2 linked regions of the Homo sapiens genome follow. The protein of the gene in region 1 interacts with the protein of each later gene in a biochemical or structural test. Each region holds a gene or a part of one and is shown on either strand. Other genes may lie near its edges.

What was found. The genes of interacting proteins can lie anywhere in the genome.
Region 2: the proteins of BMP6 (region 1) and BMPR1A form a complex in vitro, tested with the Homo sapiens proteins (one study listed by BioGRID).

The regions. Positions count from the first base shown.
Region 1 is NC_000006.12:7,721,912-7,729,108, reverse strand, and holds the start of BMP6 (bone morphogenetic protein 6 preproprotein), read right to left. Parts: upstream 3,011-7,197; 5' UTR 2,154-3,010; coding exon 1,490-2,153; intron 1-1,489. UniProt on the Homo sapiens protein: Growth factor of the TGF-beta superfamily that plays essential roles in many developmental processes including cartilage and bone formation.
Region 2 is NC_000010.11:86,920,604-86,927,870, reverse strand, and holds part of BMPR1A (bone morphogenetic protein receptor type-1A isoform 3 precursor), read right to left. Parts: intron 6,352-7,267; coding exon 6,176-6,351; intron 4,496-6,175; coding exon 4,365-4,495; intron 4,278-4,364; coding exon 4,152-4,277; 3' UTR 1-4,151. UniProt on the Homo sapiens protein: On ligand binding, forms a receptor complex consisting of two type II and two type I transmembrane serine/threonine kinases.

The DNA of each region.
Region 1 (7,197 bases):
TTGTCCAATCAGAACCCCGGGCAGTGCAAGCAGCCAGATTGGCAGGCCCTGAGCCTGGACTCCTGTGAGATTCTGTTTCACGAATTTCCCAGGAGGATTTCTGCACCACTTGGATGCCAATCGCCCTGCCTCCACACCCTCCCTTGGCTCTTACCCCCCATGTTCTCTCCCTCAAAGCTCAGTGGAGTTGGGAATCATAGATAGGCTGGTAAAGAAATCACCCAGATAGTCTACGCGGGAATCATTCCAGTAAGTAATGCCGTTAAAAGATGAGCGTCTTTGACGTGGCTGGGAGACCCGTGTGCTCCTTTGGCGAGTGTCTGCTCACCCACTTCAGGGCCTGGGCACAACCACCGTCTCACATGGGAAGGAGGCCCGTGAAGCCCCACCCCGCCGCGCAGCTGCAACCATCCCGGGCGTAGCCAGTGCACCCATGATCTGTCCGCTGACAGCGCGTCCCTCCATCCTATGTCTGCGCTAAACTAAGTCAGCTTATGAATGAAAAGCAGTGCAAACCGGAGGCACTGACTCCGAAGAAAAGAGTCTTCTCTGCACCCTTCTCATTTACAGATGAGAAAACTCAGTGGGGTGGGAGGGGGGAGAAAGGGCGATGTGACTGGGTCCGGGTTTGCCACAGAACATTTGTGGCGGAGCTCCATTTAGCCGCCCGTGAATTTCCATTCTGTTGCCTGGCAACCGGTTCAGAGGAGCTCAGCGCCCAACCCCGGCCCCTACCCCGCACCCTTTCTCTGCCCGTGCAGCTTGGGCTGCATTGATCAAAGGTTCAGCCTTTGGGGACAATGGCCAAGGGCATGTGAGCCGGGGCACAGGATGGATTACCCCAGTTGAGCTTTCATCCCGCCCCAAACAGAAGCGAGCCCCGCCCGGCCGGGATCCGAGCGCCTTCCGCGGTCCTTTTGGGACTTCCCTCTGCAACCTCCCCTAGTGCCGTGGATACCTCTAAACATACTCATGCCAAGTTTTCAAAGTTCCCAGCCGCTGTCGGATTCCCTAAAAGTCTCGGTGGGAAAACTGCACTCCAAGTTAGGGGGCAAAAGGCGGCAGTTTAGAGGGGAAAATCGTACTGAAGAGCCCTCTTCCCAGGATGGCCACACTCGGGCTGGACTCTCCTGCTGCAGTTGAGTTAACCTGGCCAGAGCTGGGCAGAAGTGAAAAAAAGCGCGGAACGTGCTCAGGGAGTCCGCAAATACACGCCCGCTGGGGACAGCGCTCCCGGAGCCCCGCGGCCCGGCCGGCCAGCCGCCTCTGGGGGCCTCGGCGCGCAGCCCTGCCCGCGGCGCGGGGGAGCGCATGTGCCGCCCACCGCCGCGCAGGTGGCGGGAGCACAGCCTGCCTGTCCCCGCGTTCTCTGGCGCACCAGGCGGGACCCGCGCGCCGGGAGCTCCTCCACCCCCTCACTCCATCCCCTGGGCCCGGGACACTGAAAAGGGGGAAATGTTCTCGTCATTACGTTACCCCAAATCCTTACCCAGGTTCACAAAGCTCATGACCATGTCCGCGTCGTTGAGGAAGGCGCTGTCCTGCGCGCTGGTCAGTGGGGACGCGCCGCCGCTGCCAGATCCGGGGGCCAGAAGGCTCTTGCGGTTGAGCGGGTGCGCGGCGCCCGGGGGCGGCTGCCGACGCTGGGACGAGCTGGCTGCTTCGTGGGGCCAGGACTGCTGCCTCTCCCCCTCCGACGCCCCGTCCTCGTCGTTGTCGGCGGACAGGGCGTTGTACAGATCCAGCATGAAGAGGGGCGCGGACTTCAGTCGCCCGGGAGGGGGCTCTCCGCGAGGCAGCTGCTGCTGCTGCTGCTGCTCCTCCTGCTGCCGGAGCGCCGGGGGCTGCGGCTGTTGGAGGCCGTGCAGGGGCCGGGGCCGGTGCGGGAGCCCCAGCACCGACAAGATCTCCTTCTGCATCTCCCGCTTCTCCTGCGTCTTGAGCCGCCGGTACAGGAAGCCCGAGGAGGACTGCGGCGACGGCGGCGGCTGCTCCGTGCGGCCGGGGCTCCCGCCGTCCCCCAGCAGCTGCCCCCCGGCGGCGGCGGCCGCGGCAGCGGGCAAGGGCGGCCGCAGCGGCGGGGGCCCGCAGCAGCTGCACAGCAGCCCCCACCACCAGCACAGCCACTGCGCCCTCCGCCCCAGCCCCGGCATCCCCGCCCGGCCGGGCTGCCCCCGCGGATCCCGCGAGGCGTGGAGCGGCGGAGCGAGGCCGGAGCGCGGCCGCTGTGGCCCTTGGCGTGAGCAGTCCCCGCCACCTCTCGGCGGGCTCGCTTCCCCTTCCTGGCCCTCAGTCCTTATCTCTCATGGTCGTCCGGGGCGCCCCCAGTTGCCCAGGCTAGAGAGGTGGCGAAGGGGCGATCACCAGGAGAACCGCTTGGAGGGGAGGAAGGGGAGCCTCACAGCCTCGCGCAGGTCTCTAGAGGCGCGCGGTCCAGGCCAGGTGCGTCTGAGTCCGGGCTGCACTGCAGCCTGCGCCCTGGCTCCTGCGAGTCGCGGCGCGGTCACTCTGGGCCTCGCTGGCCGCACACGTGCGCTGCCCCGCGCTCTCCCTGGCGACTGAGTGGGACCCGGGGCAGCGGGGAGCGGGGCCGCTCACGAGCTGCGGGAGATGCCCGGCATCACCGTGGCGCACGCCCCTCCCCAGATCGCAGGGCCACCATGAAGTTTACCCCGTTGCAGGGCCCAGGCTGCGGCGACAAGGCGTCCCGAAATGCCAGTCTATTCCGCGAGGTTTAACTTCCTTCTCGCTCACGAACTCCGCGCCCCTGAGCTCTCGGGCACCGTCGCTCCCACTCAAAATCTCCGCGCGCCGCACGCCTCCTCAAGCGGAGGCGGCGAGGATCTTGCTTTCCGTTCGGCGGTCGCCCGGCTGCCCAGCAAACCCGCTCGCAGAAAGGATGGGAAGGAAGGGGGCTAGTGCACCGAGCAGCGGCCGCGGCGGCGGCGCCGGAATTCGGTCTCCCGCCTCTCCACGCCGCGCTCCCCGCAGCGGCCAACGTGGGCTTTCTGCTGCGCGCCCGGCTCAGGTACCTCACTCCAGCCCCGGGACTCCCCGCCCCGCGGTAACCGACAGGCTGGCAGCCAATGGGGACGCGAAGCTCGCGGGCTATTTAAATAGCCCCGCCCCTTCTTTCACCCTCCCTCTCCCGAGAGGCGTCGCCTCCGCCGCGCGTAGGTTTCAAGACCCGGGAATTCTTGGAGGCATGCGAAGAGCCGCGAGGTGCCAAAGGCGAAGAGGTCATCGCTAGTAAGAATGATCTGACCAATACCCCGATCTGAAGCTTTCTCTTTTACCATCATTTAAAAGGCCTAAGTTGATGCTTTAACTAAATAAAAATAATAACAGCGATTAAATCACTATACTGCCAGAACTGAGGAAGAAAAGAAAAATGATAGCTTTTCCATCCCTTCCTTAGTTTCTCTTATTGATGTAATGTAGGCGTTTAGCGGACACGTGGCTTTCCACGGCAGCTGCTGGAAGTTGGGACACACCCTCCGGGGAGGCTACTCACAAACTGACCACAGAGAGGGCCACATGTAACCCAAGCCAGCGTCCTGAGGGTTTGGGGTCGGATGTGTTGACTTCTCTGTTCATTTGTGCTTTGGTTTGGCTTCTTAAGCTAGCACCCAAAAGAAAGAGGGTGTAATCAGACGATATATTAGAAAAGGCGTCCCCTGTCTTCTTGGAAATGTCTTGATTCTCCAGCTTATCTATTAATGTTGCATTTTAATATTGAAATACAATGTGACTTATATGGTGCAAGATAAAACTTGAGGAGAGGTGATAAAGATAACTCCAGGAAGAGCAGGGGCTTGGCATGCATTCTGAATGGTCAGGACAATAGACAGGGTCCTGAAACACAGGTTCCTGTGGATTTTAGACAAGATAACACCACCACCAACACCATTTGCCAATGAGGACACAAATTCATTTGCCTTTACCCCGCCCGAGAACATCCAGTCATCTATGGATCGTAGAAGCAAATTCACGTAAAACATGAAGGTTTTTTACTTGGTGAAAATTGTGTGGAGTTGAAAATAAAAACTGCAATTTTCTGACTTGCCAGCCTTAGTCCAAATGGTCCTAGGCATTTGAGAGTGAAGTCAAATAGATTATAGACTGTGGGATTCATGAATTTATGAGATCATAGGCTTTCTGTTGGTCCAAATCTTATAAGCATTCCTATCCTATTTCCAAGAATCTATTTCTCATGGGTAAATAGAGACCACCACTGACTCCAACTACCCACTGAGTCCTTCTTTCTAGTTCTGCCTTGGCCCAGACACAAGTGGTCATTTAGAAGAGTCTTTATTTCTACAAATATCTGATAGCTATGAATTTCAGGGCACAAAACTTATGTGAATGCCAGTCTTTAACCATCTCTACAGGGATTTCTTCCATCCGAAAAGATAATACGATACTTTGTCTGGGATGCCCGGACCCTCAGAATTCAAGAGCCCTGTCACTTCTTTTTTCTGTAGGGAACATGTTAGGGACATAAATTCACTGCAGTGCCCCACAGCAGCCAAGAGCTCTGCTCAGAAGATCTGAAATTCCAGCAAATACACCTAGGCTTCCTGCCAAGAGCCTCCTTTTTTAAACCTAGTTGCACCTTCCTCATAAGACTTCTGGTGAGATGCAGGCAGAGTAAAAGACTTTCTACCTACGAGGGCAGTGGGGAAGACACAGGAAACTCAACATTTCAAGCATGGATGAGGGCACCTTGGTGGGGCTATGTCATTTAAAACACAAAATCGAGGGGTGACCCACCTATTGTAGAGGTTGAGCATCCCTAACCCAAAAATCTGACATCCAAAATGCTCCAAAATCTAAAGATTTCTGAGAGCTGACATGATGCCTCAGATGGAAAATTCCACACCTGACCTCATAGGATGGGACATGGTCAAAACACAGTCAAAATTTTCATCCACAAAATCATTTGAAATATTGTATTAAATTACCTTCAGACTATGTATATGAGATATATACGAAACATAAATGAATTTCATGTTTAGACTTGGATCCCATCCCTAAGGTATCTCATTATGTATATGCAAATATTCCAAAATCTAAAAATCTGAAATTTGAAATACTTCTGGTCCCAAGCACTTTGGATAAGGGATACTCAACTTGTGTATGCATCTATGGGGTGGACCTAGTGCAGAAGACACACACACACATGCACACACACGCACGCCATCTCTCCCTTTCCTTAGACACTAAGAAGTAGATGGGTTCATGTGACATGAGTCTAAAGTGACTATCAACTAAACATCTGAGCAGCAACTCTGATTCAGGTCTGTTGCAGGCTCCTCACTCCACCAAGATGGATTCTCAGTTTCTGTCGAATGGGGCTAGAATGAGGAGGTGTCGAGAGTACCTCCAGGTGATGAACATGAGAACGCACATCTCCCTTAAGAGCCAGAAGAAGCTCCTAAAAAAACTGTGCAGTGAGACATTACAATGATCATAAGGACAGTGACATCCAACTGAGGATGTGCTCCTCTTCTGTCCACTATGGCTCCCAACATGTGCACATCATGTTTGCGGGACACATGCAGGCAAGCCCTTGTATCCATTGGGACAAAGGGGACAGGAAGAGATACAGTTCTAGGATTTTAATAACCTTGAAATTGGGACTACTCTTTCTCCAAGCCAGTTGGACCTCTAGGTGGATAAAAATCCCCTAACCCCCACCTTGTCTACTCCCTGCTTCTGGGACCCTTCCCCATTAGACAGCCCGAGTGCTCCCCTGGAAGCCTCAGGACAGGGAGCTAGACAACGTCCACATGTGATTCAAGAGGAGGAGGCATGGGGTGGGTGGAGTTGGAGGGACAGGAGCAGATCTGGGCTTTGAAGTCCGCTGGAATGTATGAACCGACTTGATAAAATTAGAGGTAACTTCGCCCCCTGCAGGACACCAAAATATTACCGCCCCTTCCTCTGCGGGCCCGGAACAAGCTTCATGAAGTTCTCTGTGTTTCTAAAACATCTGGGTGGAAAGAGGAGGAATTCGATCAAGAAGCCGGATGTGGGAGCCAATCCAATCAAACATCTGGTTGCTTGGCTGACATTTCATGCAGATGGCCTTCAGTTTTCTGGCAATACGTTGCCTGTCCCATCTCCCTGCCCCACTTAATGAAGAAATGAGGAGCCCTCACCAGAAAGCACAGGTTCATCCCATACTTCCAGTGATAGTGGGAATAGGACGGGAATTCTGTCTCCAAGTGTTTATTAAGGCACCATGTAATTCACGCAACAAATCCTTTAAACCTGTAGTTGTCCTTGTTCCTTATATATTCTGAGGGTTTCTGTTATACATTTATAACACACTTGACCAAATAGCTTCTATTTTGTAAACATGCTGTTTATTAATTTGACATATTAAACACATATTCTATATTACCTTATTAGCAATAAACTGCAACTTCAGTCTTGGATTTTATATTAAATTTTACATTGGTCCCTTTCAACTGCATTTCCTGAAGATGTAAGTTGCTGCTTTTAGAATTAACTTAATAAAAATATCTTGGCCAGGTATGTAATAGCAACACTTTGAGAGGCTGAGGCAGGCAGATCACTTGAGCCCAGGAGCTCGAGATCAGGCTGGGCAACCTAGTAAGACCTTGTTTCTACAAAAAAAAAAAAAAAAAAAAAATACAAAAATTAGCCGGGTGTGGTGGTGCACGCCTGTAGTTCCAGCTCCTCAGGAGGTTGAGGTGGGAGGATCGCTTGAGCCAGGGAGGTGGAGGTTACAGTGAGCCCAGATCACCAGATCACACCACTGCACTCCAGCCTGGGTGACAGCAAGACCCTGTCTCAAAAAAAAAAAAAAAAAATCTTGTAAACTGTGTAGCTGTCATGTTTAAAAGACTGAGGTCTAGCCTCCTTGAATTATTGAGACGTTCCACTCCAAAGACCAACTTTTTATCTTTACTATTAGCATAAGGACCTGAGTACTTCTTAATGTTAATTTCAAAGTATAATAATTCGATCAAATTTTTAAAATATCGATTTAGAGTTGAGTGAAAAGAAAATAGATAAATGGTTGTAAAGTATGAGAAATGAAAATTTGCAAGTGAAATAAGTATTGCTTCTGAAAGCTACACCTGTAAGACAGCCTTCAAAAGACCTGTCTCATCCAAAAGTCTGTGGTAACATTTACATTCAGTCACACTCCGCTTTCACTGTCTA
Region 2 (7,267 bases), on another chromosome or scaffold:
CCAGATGCTGTACAAAATACATTTAGTGTGTTACACGTCAAAGACGAATCTATATTTTTGGTGTTTTACAACTGCCTGATAAAACTGCTTGCTTTTACCCTTCTTTCAATGCCTATGTACAGTTTCCCCTAATGAAGCAATAATGATATTTCCATTTTATACAATATATACTACATTTTAGTTTTTAAATGGGCCAGGACAAAGGTCACTAAAAGGGCTTAAATAATTCCATAGAAAACAGAATACAGAGCATAAGCTAAAATTACAATAGTTAATCCTTTACAAGAGCCATATTCACATACTTTCCTTATGGGACCATCATTACACGTGGCTTCACAGGATGCTGTGCTGGATTTTGGTTCTTAGGAACACACCTCCTCCCTGCAGTTTCCACTGTGACTCTCACAGCAGCACACTAAGGCAAGAGACGAGCTGTGGCACTGCTATTTTAACACCTGACTCAAAGTCAGTAATAAATATGACCACTTTTAAACACTACAAGGGCTATCATAATCTTTTGTTAAAATAAAAATCATTTCTGCTGTTGAAATGATTTTAGATATTTAGAAACATTTCAAAACAACATCTATGAAGTATGTTTATGAAAGCTGCCCTGGAATAAATTATTCAATATCAAATTTGATCCTGGGCCAACCCAAAGATGCATGATTCTTTAAAAACTATAGTGCATTTTTGTTCTAAACAGAACAAAGCATCTGAAGAAAAGTACTGATTGTTAGAGTAAATCAAAATTTGGCACGTTCTAGGAAAACATAATTTTAAAAAACTATAGGTCACTTTCTAAGTTTAGAAACACTTCTGGACACTGGAAAGGCAATGTAAAAATACTGATTAAAATAACTTTTGTGAAAATATTTCCAAAGAAATCAGATGCAAGTTTTATACATCAGAAACTTGTTCAGTAAAAAGCACAGTAAAAGCTTAGAATAAACAAACTGAAGGAAACCCTAATGTGCCTTTAATCCTAGAGCTATTTGCCAGCATAAAGAGAATTCACAAGAACTCTCTTTGAGGGTTAACTTTTCCTGTTTATAGTCAGGTAGTTTGGGTTGTTTGCTTTTATATTTTAATTATTTAAAGAGCTATCTGAATGAAGCTACACACTTCAAAAACACTAAATTGCAAGTGGGACCAAATAATGGCTTCCAAGGTTTTACGAATTTACTAACTATGGTACTACATAATACTTCTTCTTGCTGGCCTATCATATTCTTTAAATATTTCACTTAGTCGATGAGCTTCAGATTTAAGAATAAGAGTGGAAAGGAGAGACAAGAACTAAGTTTAATGCAACATTTTTGTTTTTTGTTATTTATTTGTTTGTTTATTTGAGATGGAGTTTCGCTCTTTTGCCCAGGCTGGAGTGCAGTGACACGATCTCAGCTCACTGCAACCTCCACCTTCTGATTTTAAGCAATTCTCCTGCTTCAGCCTCCCGAGTAGCTGGGATTACAGGCACCCGCCACCACGCCTGGCTGAGTTTTTTATTTTTAGTAGAGATGGGGTTTCACCATGTTGGCCAGGCTGGTCTTGAACTCCTGACCTTGTGATCCACCCGCCTCAGCCTCCCAAAGTGTTGGGATTACAGGCGTGAGCCACCGCGCCCGGCCACATTTTTAGATTAAGATTCCAAAGACGGCAGCATTTGCTTTTTAAAGAACATGTTATACTAGAAAATGTTTTTACTGAGCAAGTTTCTAAGATTAACTCTTGATATCACTTTTACTAGACCAAGTTAATTTTAAAAAACCATAATAGTGGTCTCATATACTGGCTGTAATTTTTTGCTTCCACACACCATTTGAACATTTCCAATAAACTTTGCCTGTCTTTATATTTTTATTAAGATGACAAATGAACTTTGGGAGGCCGAGGCAGGTGGATCATGAGGTCAGGAGATTGAGACCATCCTGGCTAACAAGGTGAAACCCCGTCTCTACTAAAAATACAAAAAATTAGCCGGGCGCGGTGGCGGGCGCCTGTAGTCCCAGCTACTCGGGAGGCTGAGGCAGGAGAATGGCGTGAACCCGGGAAGCGGAGCTTGCAGTGAGCCGAGATTGCGCCACTGCAGTCCGCAGTCCAGCCTGGGCGACAGAGCGAGACTCCGTCTCAAAAAAAAAAAAAAAAAGATGACAAATGATTTTAAAGATTATGGTATCAAGTCAAAAGTAAACCAAGATTTAAGTAAATTGGGTGTTCTAAGTGCAATCATATCATACGGCAACGCAGATTAAAATATTTGTATTTCTCAGTATACATATGGTGAAAAATTCTGAAAAAACAAGTTATTGGGTATTATCCATATGCAAATTTACTTATCTTGATGAACACTTCAGACTTTAATTATGGCAGATGAAACTTATTAATCAAAATGGTTAAGGCAATTTTCAAATTTGTGAAATTTGATGTGCAGACAAATTTGTAAGTTTTAACCTTAAATGATAGTCAAATTTTGGTAATGGGTGGACATATGCTGATTTCCTCCCATTTAATTTAAACCTTTTTGATGATGATGTGATATAATCACATTTATTTTATGTTATAATCAAATAAAACTATCTCACTTGATGTACTCATGAATTGTTTGCTCAGAATAAATATTTAAAAAGCATTAAAGAAGTATAAGTTTATGTAAATCAGATTTCTTGAGATAACAAGGCATCTATAAAATATGAACCATTTTATTGAAGAACAGTTATACAGTGTAGCTACAGATACTGACTAGATACTAAATATTTCTGCCTGATTTTTCATTGTCTTCACAAGTTAGGGAATAGAAATCAAAAAACCAAAAATCTCAAATGATTTAGCTGTCCAGAACATATTTGACAGTTGATAAATTTATAACAGCTCTGACATATAAATTTCTAATTAGAGAATCCTTTCATTTGAAAAAATTGAGATGATATTACCCTAATGAAGTTTTTACCTGAAGTTAACAAAGTCCTGGATTTGATATATTACTTTGAATGCATTAATTCTGAAAATTTATATTTAGTTCTACTTTATAACATTTCTTCTCTTAAGGATGGGATATGAGGTACACATGAGCTGGTTTCTACAGTATGAATGTATGTACATATATAAAGTATGGTTGTAAAGGAGTGGGTGATTTGCAAATAAAGCACATTATACACAAAATATAAATAACTTCCCTTTTAAAAGTTACTGAGAATAAAGAATATAGAACATGGTTATAGGCACTTACATTGCTATCAAATGCAGGAATTCACTTCAATAAGAAGTGCTTTCTTTGTAAGCATGGTTCATGGCAATAGAAGCTCCAACTTTGGAGAGGATGCTTTCCGTGACAAAAATAATAACCACAAAAAAAATGGTGGTTGAAGGAAAACAGTCCAAATTTACAGATGCTTTAAACTTCTTTTGGCCTTGGCATCAGCTTTCATGTTAAAAAATAAAGCTGGTGGGGAAGCTATCTCACTTGCAAAGTAAATGGCTTGTATGAGATTGGCGAATCTTGGTCAGATATTGCATTTTTAAAGCACAAAACCACCGGCCACCAATATCTTCCTGTGCATGCATATAAATTATTTTCTTCTAATTCAAATGGCAGCAGAGGAATCCCGGCGTGCATGTGCATGGAGACACACACACATCACTAAGGACACAGGACAAACTATCATAAAATAAGCAGTATCCCAAACACATCATCATCTATAGGCTGTTTTACAAAGGTAGAATACAAACGAACTGAAAGTCTCAGGTAAAAGGCAAAGTCTATTTCTCCATCTCTGCTGCGCTCATTTATCTTCTTAAGGCTTTCACAGAAAGCACCGTTTTATGAACAGGCAATTCAGTACCCAGAGCTTGACTGGAGACACTAATCAGGATTGAAGTCTTGATGCAGTTCATAAAAACCCACTTAAAAAAAGGCATCAAAAACCACATTTAAAATAAAGCTGTCCATATATAAAGAATGAAGTGTTTAGAAGTTCCCAGCTTGTATCCTAATAAGAGTACTGAAAGGTTTAATATTAGCAGCCTGTGAACACGTAGTGAAGAAAGAGTCTGAGAACCAAGTTAACATCCTTATTCCACTCTAATTCCACCCATGCCATGGGTAAAAACAGTTCTTGCAGTCTAGAGTTTCTCCTCCGATGGTTTAACCATCAGATTTTTACATCTTGGGATTCAACCATCTTGGCAAGCGTCTTCTTAATTCTCAATGCTGTGAGTCTGGAGGCTGGATTGTGGGCCCAGCATTCTGACATTAGCTTCAAAACTGCTCGTAGACACTGAAAAGTAAAGAGATGTTCAGTGAGCAGAGAATATATTTGGTGGCATTTACGAATCACTTCTTCAGGGGACTGAGTTCCACTCACTTCATCACTGTTCCACCGATTAGACACAATTGGCCGCAAACGTTTGACACACACAACCTCACGCATATCTTCGTATGACGGATCACTCGGTACCATGTTGTAATATGGCAATTGGTATTCTTCCACGATCCCTATAAGGGAATGAGAAAACATGGGCACAAAAATGGTTGCTGGACAAGATATACCAATCTAGTAAGCATCTTTTGCTAAACTATGGAACTAAAACGGATTCTTACACAAGAAAAAATATAGACACTATGATTCACTCTTAATAGTAGATGTATGTTTTTCTCTTATTTATGTCCAACTATTTCCTCTACCTCCACCAGGGATGTCATCACAACTGTGATAGAGTCCATCGACAAAGGGCATATCAATCTTCCTTAAAAAAAATAAGCAAGGCGAAATCAGCCATTTACCCTAAAGTATAATTATTTACTTATATGGTTGTTCCTACTAATGAATAGTTTTTATTATTTTGTTTCATTTTGCTCTGCAGTAGAAAGACTTATGAGGTGCAGATAAGGGTTCACACAGCAGGCCTGAGACCTTCCCTTAGGAAAGGCGGCTTGCAAGGTTTGGCCTTGGCCAGTGCCCGGGTACACAAATGGTAAACAGTTCCCTACATGGATATAAAACTTACCGGAAACGGTGAGGGTAACTCACCACTCCTGGGCTGCTTGTGCAAACAATGTGGTGTGTACTGCACGTCTGCTTTCCTGCTGGAATTCTGGTACATGCCAGGCAGAGGATGCCTATGTGACCAGCCTCCAGTAAAATCTCTGGGTGCCAAGTCTCTAAGGAGCTTTCCCGAATGAGAACACTTTGTATGTGTTGTCACAACTAGTAAGAGGAATGAAGCACACGCCCTGACTCCGCTGGGACAGGATTCTGGGAAGCCTCGCCTGGTTTTCTAAACTTGGCTGATTTTGATTTGTATCCTTTCACTGGGATAAATGTTAGCCATTGGGACAACCACATGCCGAGTCCTGTGGTCCTTCAAGTGAAATCGCACAACCTGGGGGTGGTCTTGGGGACTCTGACGTATGTGACATCTAAATTACGTAACTGCCAGCAATTGCACTCCTAGGTGTATACCCAAAAGAAAGGAAATCAGCTAACCGAAGAGATACCTGCACCCTCATGTTTGCTGCAGCACTGTTCACAATAGCCAAGATGTGGAAGCAACCTAAGTGACCATCAACAGATGAACACATCAAGAAAATGTGGCACCTACACACAATGGAGTATCATTCAGCCAGAAAAAAGAATGAGATTCTGCCTTCTGAAATAACATGGAGGAACTGGATGTCATAACGTTAAGTAAAATAAGCCAGGCACAGAAAGACAAACTTCACATGTTCTCACTTACTTGTGAGATCTAAAAATCAAAACAACTGAACTCATGGAGAACAGAAGGATGGTTACCAGAGGTTGGGAAGGGTAGCAGCAGATGGGGGGGGATGTTTAATAAGTAGAGACAAAATAGAAGAATGAATAAGTATTTGGTATTTTATAGCACAACGGGGAGGACTACAGTTAGTAATAATTTAATTGTACACTTAAAAATAACTCAAGGAGTATAACTGGTTGGTGAAACAAAGGATAAATGTCTGAAGGGACAGATATCCAATTCTCCAAGATGTGATTATTACACATGGCATGCCTGTATCAAAATAACTCCTTATCCAATAATATATACACCTACTATGTGCCCACAAAAATTAAAAACTAAAAAGTTATATAACTGGAGCTGTTATTTTTAAAATGATGAGTAAATCAACATAATCAGAAACTACTCAAACTCCCACCTCCTGTGATACAACGACGAGCCATCTCCCAAATGATTAGGCCGAAGCTGTAGATGTCAGCCATGATGTAGGGCTGGAAGTGGTTTTTGTTCAGGCTTTCGTCCAGCACTTCGGGAGCCATGTAGCGTTTGGTGCCCACCCTGGTATTCAAGGGCACATCAACTTCATTTGTGTCACTGAAACAAAAGAAAGCCAAGGTCCAAGTTGAGGGCCAAAAATAAAATAGTTTATCTTGTATTTTTGTCCTATTTTATAAAAGCTTCTTTTTCTCCTTGGGGCCAGATGCATTGTGGAATTTAGCATTTTTCAGATTTTTCTTTAAATACATGCTACATACTACATGACATCCTCAGCAGGGTTGGGGCAGCACTCTTAATCCAACTCAGTACTCAGTACTGTGTCTACAGCAAAACACTAAGTCCGATAGTCCTCCTCAACTGGATAAGGGCAATACACACCTCACATCCGTTCAGGTCAGGTTTTGTCACTAAATAAGTCTGGTGTCTAAGAAAGAGGACAACACTGAATATAAGATAAAGTTAAGCCAGGCACGGTTGCTCATGCCTGTAATCTCAGCACTTTGGGAGGCCAAGGCGGGCGCATCACCTGAGGTCAGGTGTTCAAGATCAGCCTGGCCAACATGGTAAAACACTGTCTCTATAAAATACAAAAGTTAACCAGGGTTGGTGGCACATGACTATAATTCCAGCTACTTGGGAGGCTGAAGCACGAAAATTACTTGAACCTGGGAGGCGGAGACTGCAGTGAGCCGAGACCATGCCACTGCACTCCAGCCTGGGCAACAGAGTGAGAATCTCTCTCAAAAAAAAAAAAAAAAAGAAAAGAAAAGGAAAAAAAAAAGATAAAGTAGTAGATAATTATGTCTGAGAAGTGGTGAATATGAAAATACAAGAGGAATCGCTTGCTTTTACCACTCTCATATGATACACTAAGGCTTTGTGACATAGGATTACATTTTCTTCTTTATGGGTCCCATCAACAGAGTTCTGTTGTTAGCAATGTTTACATGATCATACTGACAATTAGTAATAATTACTCTAAAGCAGTGATCAATATAATGCGTTGTATTTT